2 linked regions of the Homo sapiens genome follow. The protein of the gene in region 2 interacts with the protein of the main gene of each other region in a biochemical or structural test. Each region holds a gene or a part of one and is shown on either strand. Other genes may lie near its edges. The genes, in order: CREB1 and CREB3L3.

What was found.
Region 1: the proteins of CREB3L3 (region 2) and CREB1 interact in a test that uses a peptide from one of them, tested with the Homo sapiens proteins (one large-scale study listed by IntAct).

What each region holds. Positions count from the first base shown.
Region 1 is NC_000002.12:207,574,648-207,578,468, reverse strand, and holds part of CREB1 (cyclic AMP-responsive element-binding protein 1), read right to left. Parts: intron 3,198-3,821; coding exon 3,015-3,197; intron 1,839-3,014; coding exon of another isoform or gene 1,822-1,838; exon of another isoform or gene 1,816-1,821; coding exon of another isoform or gene 1,776-1,815; exon of another isoform or gene 1,544-1,775; intron 1,360-1,543; exon of another isoform or gene 1,245-1,359; intron 965-1,244; coding exon 814-964; intron 1-813.
Region 2 is NC_000019.10:4,156,343-4,160,163, reverse strand, and holds part of CREB3L3 (cyclic AMP-responsive element-binding protein 3-like protein 3), read right to left. Parts: intron 3,170-3,821; coding exon 2,869-3,169; intron 501-2,868; coding exon 382-500; intron 1-381. UniProt on the Homo sapiens protein: Transcription factor that may act during endoplasmic reticulum stress by activating unfolded protein response target genes. Activated in response to cAMP stimulation. In vitro, binds to the cAMP response element (CRE) and box-B element.

The sequences.
Region 1 (3,821 bases), on a different chromosome or scaffold from region 2:
CCTGCTTCTTTCACTTTATCAGTGTTTGAAGTATCCTGGGATGAACAGTGAGATACTTTCACTAATTTCAAACTTTTTAAACCTTTACATAACCTTATTTTCATTTTCTTTTGTTTGTCTCGGTCACTTCTATATGAAAGTTCTAAACCAATATTTAGTAACTTATTTTTATTGTTTTTGACGGCAAAATCATTTACAGCAATAAAGTTACTTTCTGAGAATTGCTTTACCAACATTTCACAGATTTTGAATGTAGTATTTTTTTGAAGACTATATTTTAAGATTTTTGTCCGTAACATGGTATTCTTAGAATTAACATATTTTTGAAGAATCTTTAGGTGTTAAAATGTTATTATTTTGAGTAAAGATATTATTCATTAAAACATGAACTGGCCACCATACATTTACTTTATATCAAGTAAATTTAATATAGATAAAATTTAACACACAGTTAATATACATATATGAAACTCTTGATCTTCTTGAACAATACTATACATGAAAAGAAACCATTTTTAAATAACCTGGCTAACTGGTTGGAGTGCAGACATAGGGAAGTTGTGCATTAAATCTCCTGTGGGGAAACTGCATGAAAGAAAACTACTCCACGATCAAAGATTGACCCATAATCATACAGCTATCTTATAAGTGCAGCTTATTAAATAAAGAAAATTTAGCAAGATCCATTAATTCTGCTGGAAAAAAAAAATTCAATGCAAAGATCCTATTACCAGTAGATGTAAAGATACACATCCAGCAGAATGTGAAGACACACTTAACACATAACAATCTAAGTAAATGCAGTATTTGTACCTGTTCTTCATTAGACGGACCTCTCTCTTTCGTGCTGCTTCTTCAGCAGGCTGTGTAGGAAGTGCTGGGGAGGATGCCATAACAACTCCAGGGGCAATAGTGCTAGTGGGTGCTGTGCGAATCTGGTATGTTTGTACGTCTCCAGAGGCAGCTGAAAAAAACAGTGAGCATGGTGTAAGACAGAAACATTGCAACTTGATTCAATTATGTGTATCAATCATCAATCTAAGCATGTATTTTGGACTAAAAGGGAAACAAAAAAGAAAAGATGATTCTGGCTAAAGCGTTGAAAGAATCAGCACTCTTCGCGCCACTACTAAGAAATAATTCCCAATGTAATGTATTTATTACAGTAACCTATGTCCGCTGGATCTTACATTTTATTTTTCATTTGAATGCAGTTCTATTCTGTTGTTAACATGCTTACCAACCTTAAGTCTAAAAGGTAAGTGGGGCACAGCTTGGATGATCTTCCTAGATAGAGTATAGTCCTCAGTGTCTTCCTTTGATATTGGTAAATTCATATTAAAAAATTTCAAGTAGACTCTTGCCACGACATAAAAACGACCATGATTTTTCATAAAATAGCAAAATGAAAAAGAAGATAAAGCATTATGGTCAACTATTATAAATTTTGAATTAAAACAAAACTAAAAGTATGAAAAAGTGTATCACTTGATGCCAATTATATTATTTGAAAAACATATTGTTTTAATGTAAATGATAATGGCTAAATAAACTGAAGTTTTATTTTTCTAACTGATTCACCATTTGTAAAAACAAACACAATCACTATTTGTCAAACTGCTTCTAAAAACAGCGTAATAATATGCTCTCCTAATAAGGAACCTAATGTTACTTAAAAAAATTTGAAGGTCTTTATAAAATTATTCATATTAATTATTAATATCAATTAAAATGTATGGTTTGAGTGGAAAAGATTTATATACTAAACATGTTACCATCTTCAAACTGACGTTCAGAATTCAAATTCACTGACATCCTGCTTTACAATTTTTGAGTACCTGCATGTAAAGTGAAAAGGTGTTTTACTCTCATCAATAAGCAAAATAGTATCTTTTTCAAATACTCGTTTAATAACAGAATATATTCTGTAAACATTAGGGCTCTTTAAATAAGTTATGACTCTCTCCAGTTGGTGTTTCAGGATTATTCAATTATCCATGGTGAAAGGATACAACTGTCATTACCTAACACAGGCAAAATGCATTATTATTTATAAAAATATTTTCAGAAACAAATTTATTATTATTTCCTCAATCAGCAAATTTCTAACCTGGCATTAACTATATTCTTGAAATATTCAAACAAATCCAAAGAAAAATGGTTAACTGCTATCCATAAAGATTCCTGAAATAAACAGAAAAAAAAAACTAAAAAAAAAAAAAAAAAAGCCAAAAAAAGCAACTTCTATAATTTGTCGAGAATTTAACAACTACTTTTTCTCTAAAGAGCAGCAGATTTGCATATTGGTATAAGATCCTGTGGAATATAATGTTTTCATTTGAAACAAAAACTGAGTCAAGTGCAGAGGCATCCCAACACTTTGGGAGCCTGAGAAAGGAGGATTGCTTGAGGCCCGGAGTTCAAGACTAGCCTGGGCAACACAGTGAGACCATGTCTCTAGAAAAAAATAATAATAATAATAATAAAAACTGATGATCTCAGAAGATTTAAATTTCTTTTGGGGGGGGGGGGGGAAGCAGAGAAACAGAATCCTGAACTTCTGAAGATTGTTTCCAGAGATTCAGTGCAACTCTTATTTTACAGATGAAAAAACAAAAACAACAACAACAAAAAACAAAACACTTTCCTGAGGCTCAGAGCAGCTGACTTTTACTCAAGGCCTCATAGCAGATCCATGCAGTTAGATACAGAATCCATCTTTTCTAACTCCTGATTTCCTGGTCTTTCCTTCTAACCTATCCTGTTTCTTCTACCCCAAAAGATGTTAAAGGTAGATGCAATATTTTAAAAACTGAAAATAGTTGTTTTTATGCCATGACATTTTGGTCCAATTGGAATAATGGAAGAGTTCATGAAAAATACTATCAATATTGAAGAAATGTTAACTACATTTGAATGGTGGTTTGCAATATGATACTTACTTTTTCTGTGAGTTTATAAAATTTTAGTATTTTGAAGAATTTACCACACCTGTGAATTCTGAATTCCCTTACCTTGAACAACAACTTGGTTGCTGGGCACTAAGATCTGCTGTCCATCAGTGGTCTGTGCATACTGTAGAATGGTAGTACCCGGCTGAGTGGCTGCTGCATTGGTCATGGTTAATGTTTGCAGGCCCTGTACCCCATCGGTACCATTGTTAGCCAGCTGTATTGCTCCTCCCTGGGTAATGGCAACTAAAAGCCAATGGATTTTATTGTTACAAGTTTAATACCATATAAGACTTTTAAAACATTACATCCAATGTAGAATAATTTGTAAAATAATCTAGGAGAAGTTACAGCAAATAACATCACCAAGAAGGGTCTAATATATTCAAGTAACTTGCTCCTCAGGAAACCCATATTCAACTTCTACAATAGAAATGCACTCTATGAACTGCATTCTAATTTATAATAATAATGCCTGTTAACAATTTTTTTAAGTGGAAAAATGTTAAATTCCTTCTGAAGTTATTTGGTTCTGAAGAGGTTCCACTCTGTGATCCTTTCTTTTATTTTAGCATTAACTGCATAATGTATTAATACTTGTCCCACTAGTAAATAAATTTCTGGAGAGTAGGAATTTTCTTATATACTTTCATACACTTAGCACAGTGGCAGCCATGAAATAGGCACCCAATAAATGGTTGTTTTAACATATAACTAATAAAGCAGTTCATCAGTGCATTGTATTCCCTAACTCTTGTAGAAATTCTTTAATGGTATCTAATCCACTCAATGAAACAACTGAAATATCCTATGGAACTTAATTATCAACAGTCTCTCATGGAATTTTAAAATCAGAGCTCAAGATCATCA
Region 2 (3,821 bases):
CCACCATGCCAGGCTAATTTTTGTATTTTTTGTATAGATGGGGTTTCACCATGTTGCCCAGGCTGGTCTCAAACTCCTGAGCTCAAGCGATCTGCCTGCCTTGGCCTCCCAAAGTGCTGGGATTACAGGTGTGAACCACCACACTCAGCCAGTTTTAGCTTTTAGTTGTTGTTGCTATTGTTACTACTAAGTACTACAGAGGAAGACACCCCAGCCCAGGCGACAGTGAGCCCAGGACTGGAATGGTCTCTAACTGTGGGCAAATTCCACGCCTTTCTGTGACTCAGTTTTCCAGTCTCTGAAACGGGGATATTTAGGCTCCTCGAACCCGAGCAGCCCTCCCAGCTCCAACGCCCCATGGGAGGGTGTGGGGGTGCTCACCAGGTCCCCACTGCTGCCCGAAAGGAGGAGGTCTTTCACGGTGAGATTGCATCGTGGGGACAGGTCCACCGGATCAGCCGGCTTCTCAGCACAGATCCTTCCTCCTGGGCTCCACATTTCTGACCAGGGCAGGTGGGGACGGAGACAGGGAGAGTGTCAGACGGGGGGAGTCCTGAGCTTCCAGCCTCTAACCGCCTCCTCCACCAAGTCTCCCATGATTAATCCCAACATTCATATGACTTCTGCCAGAGTTTGGAGTCCCCAAGGCCTGAGTTGAAGGGGGCAGCCCTCACTAGTGACTCGGTCTCCCCTCTGCTATAAGATGGGAACCCAGCCAGTCATGGTGGCTCACGCCTGTATTCCCAGCACTTTGGGAGGCCAAGGCAGGCGGATCATCTGAGGTTAGGAGTTCAAGACCAGCCTGGCCAACATGGTGAAATCCCATCTCTATTAAAAATACAAAAATTAGCCGGGCCTGGTGGCGTGCACCTGTAATCCCAGCTGCTCGGGAGGCTGAGGCAGGAGAATCACTTGAACCCGGGTGGTGGACGTTACAGTGAGCTGAGAATGTGGCACTGCCCTCCAGCCTGGGTGACACAGCGAGACTCCATCTCAAAAAAAAAAAAAAGATGGGGACCCAAATTCAACAGGGCTTGGTTCTGTCCGTCCCACAAGGCTGAGGAAGACACAGGACATTGTCAGGAGACACCGGCTGATTCAAAAGGGAGTGGCTGTTATCACACAGAATTACAGGCTAGATTTGCAGCCAGCCAGGCGTTATCTCACCCAAGGGGCAGGGACGAGGTCTGATTCACCTCTGGTTGTCCCCTCCTGGTAGCCGGCATGCAGTAGGCATGCTGTCCCAGCACACAAACTTTGGGTCAGGTAACCCTTGGTTCTAATCCTGGTTGGGCAGGGCTGTGTGACCTTGAGTAAGTGACTTCACCTCTCTGAGCCTCAGATTTTTTTTTTTTTTTTTTTTTGAGACGGAGTCTCGCTCTGTCGCCAGGCTGGAGAGCAGTGTGGCAATCTTGGCTCACCGCAACCTCCACCTCCCAGGTTCAAGAGATTCTCCTGCCTTAGCCTCCCGAGTAGCTGAGACTACAGGCGCCTGCCACCACACCCAGCTAATTTTTGTATTTTTAGTAGAGACAGAGGTTTCACCATGTTGGCCAGGATGGTCTCGATCTCTTGACCTCGTGATCCGCTCGCTTCGGCCTCCCAAAGTGCTGGGATTACAGGCGTGAACCACTGTGCCCAGCATTTTTTGTTTTTGGCTTTTTTTCGAGACAGAGTCTGGCTCTGTCAGCCAGGATGGAGTGCAGTGGCATGATCTCAGCTCACTGCAACCTCCGCCTCCCGGGTTCAGGTGATTCTCCTGCCTCAGGCTCCTGAGTAGCTGGGACTACAGGTGGCCCCCACCATGCCCGGCTAATTTTGTATTTTTAGTAGAGATGGGGTTTCACCATGTTGGCCAGGCTGGTCTTGAAGTCCTAACCTCAAGTGATCCGCCTGCCTCAGCCTCCCAAAGTGCTGGGATTACAGGCATGAGTCACCGCTCCGGGCCTGAGCCTCAGTTTTGTCAACTCTCCAATGGGACCAAGAAGAGCTCATAGCAAGGGTCAAGGGACAAAGGCCACCCAGAGGCCAAGTATCTCCAGCCAGGGCTCTGCCTGGCCCGCCGGGAATGCTTAATCAATAGAGTAAATCATTACTGATCTGCTGTTCCCCACGTCTAGGAGGAGCACCCTGGAACCTAGGACCTGGTAACCTCATGCACTTTTATTGAGCATCTACAGGCTGGGTGGAGCGGCTCACACCTGTAATCTCAGCACTTTGGGAGGCTGAGGTGGGCAGATCACCTGAGCTCAGGAGTTCAAGACCAGCCTGGCCAACATGGTGAAACCTCGTCTCTACTAAAAAATAAATATTAGCTGGGCATGGTGGCATATGCTTGTGATCCCAGCTACTCAGGAGGCTGAGGCAGGTGAATTGCTTGAACCTGGAAGGCAGAGGTTGCAGTGAGCCGAGATCGCGCCACTTTACTCCAGCCTGGGTGACAGAGTGAAACTCTGTCTCAAAAAATAAAAATAAATAAAAAATAAAAAAAAATCTACTAGGAACCAGGCACGGGGTACAGACACGTAGAAGGCAAGACCCTGACTTTGGGCTGTGCTTGTCAGCACCATGCCTGGTGCCTGAGCCACCTGCCGGGGTTGCATCCTAGCTCTGTGGTTTTAGCTCATTGCTCAACCTGACAGGACTGTTTCACGATCTGGAAAATGGGCTCCCAATAGCATCCACGTGAAAGCATGGAAACACCTAGCCAAGGGAGACACGTGTCCTGAGTTTGAGTCTGGGCCCAGCTCCAAATTGCTGTGTGACCTTGGACAAGATGCCAGCCCTCTCTGGGCCTCCATTTCCTCACTTACAGGAAGGGCCCTGGAACAAGGTGAGGGCGGTGGGCAGAGACACAGCAGGACTCACCCAGGTCTATGGTCACAGAGGCTTCAGGTACTTGGATCACTGGCCCTGGGGTTGTGGTGGAGCAAGAGTTGCCAGGATGATAGGAGAGGCAGGGCCCCTTGCCAGGCTGGGCAGGATGGCAGCCGGCGGGGGAGGTGGCTGGTCCGCTGCGTGGAGGGGTGTCCTGGGGGTCGGAGGGGAGGTCTTCGGAGATGCCACTATCACTGCCTTCGGGGGACCAGAGTGGGGAGCTGGGCAGTGAGTCTCCAGAGCCCAGGATGGAGCTGAGGAAGTCGTCAGAGTCGGGGTTTGGCAGGACCTGCTGGGGTGGACAGGGAGGGGTAGTAGGAATTAGGAAGTGCTCACTCTTTTTAGATTAGTGTGTGGCCCCAGGGAAACCAGTGACCCTCTTTGGGCCTTAGGTGTCCTTCCCTTCTCCAAGATGAGTTACTGCTTCTTCCTCCCGGGGCTGCTGAGGCTCAAACGCAGTAACATAGCATAAAAATCCCAGCCAGTGCCAGGTGCAGTGGCTCCTGCCTGTAATCCCAGCACTTTGGGAGGCCGAGGAGGGCGAATCACTTGAGGTCAGGAGTTCGAGATCCGCCTGGCCAACATGATGAAACCCCATTTCTTCTAAAAATACAAAAAGTAGCTGGGCGTGGTGGCGGGCATCTGTAGTCCCAGCTACTCGGGAGTCTGAGGAAGGAGATTCTGAACCCGTAAGACGGAGGCTGCAGTGAGCCGAGATCACGCCACCGCACTCCACCCTAGGCAACAGAGCAAGACTCCATCTCAAAAAAAAAAAAAAAAGAAAAAAAGAAAAACAAAAGAGCCAGGCACGGTGGCTCAGGCCTGTAATCCCAGCACTTTGGGAGGCCAAGGCGGGCAGATCACCTGAGGTCGGGAGTTTGAGACCAGCCTGACCAACAGGGAGAAACCCCGTCTCTACTAAAAATTCAAAATTAGCCAGGCAT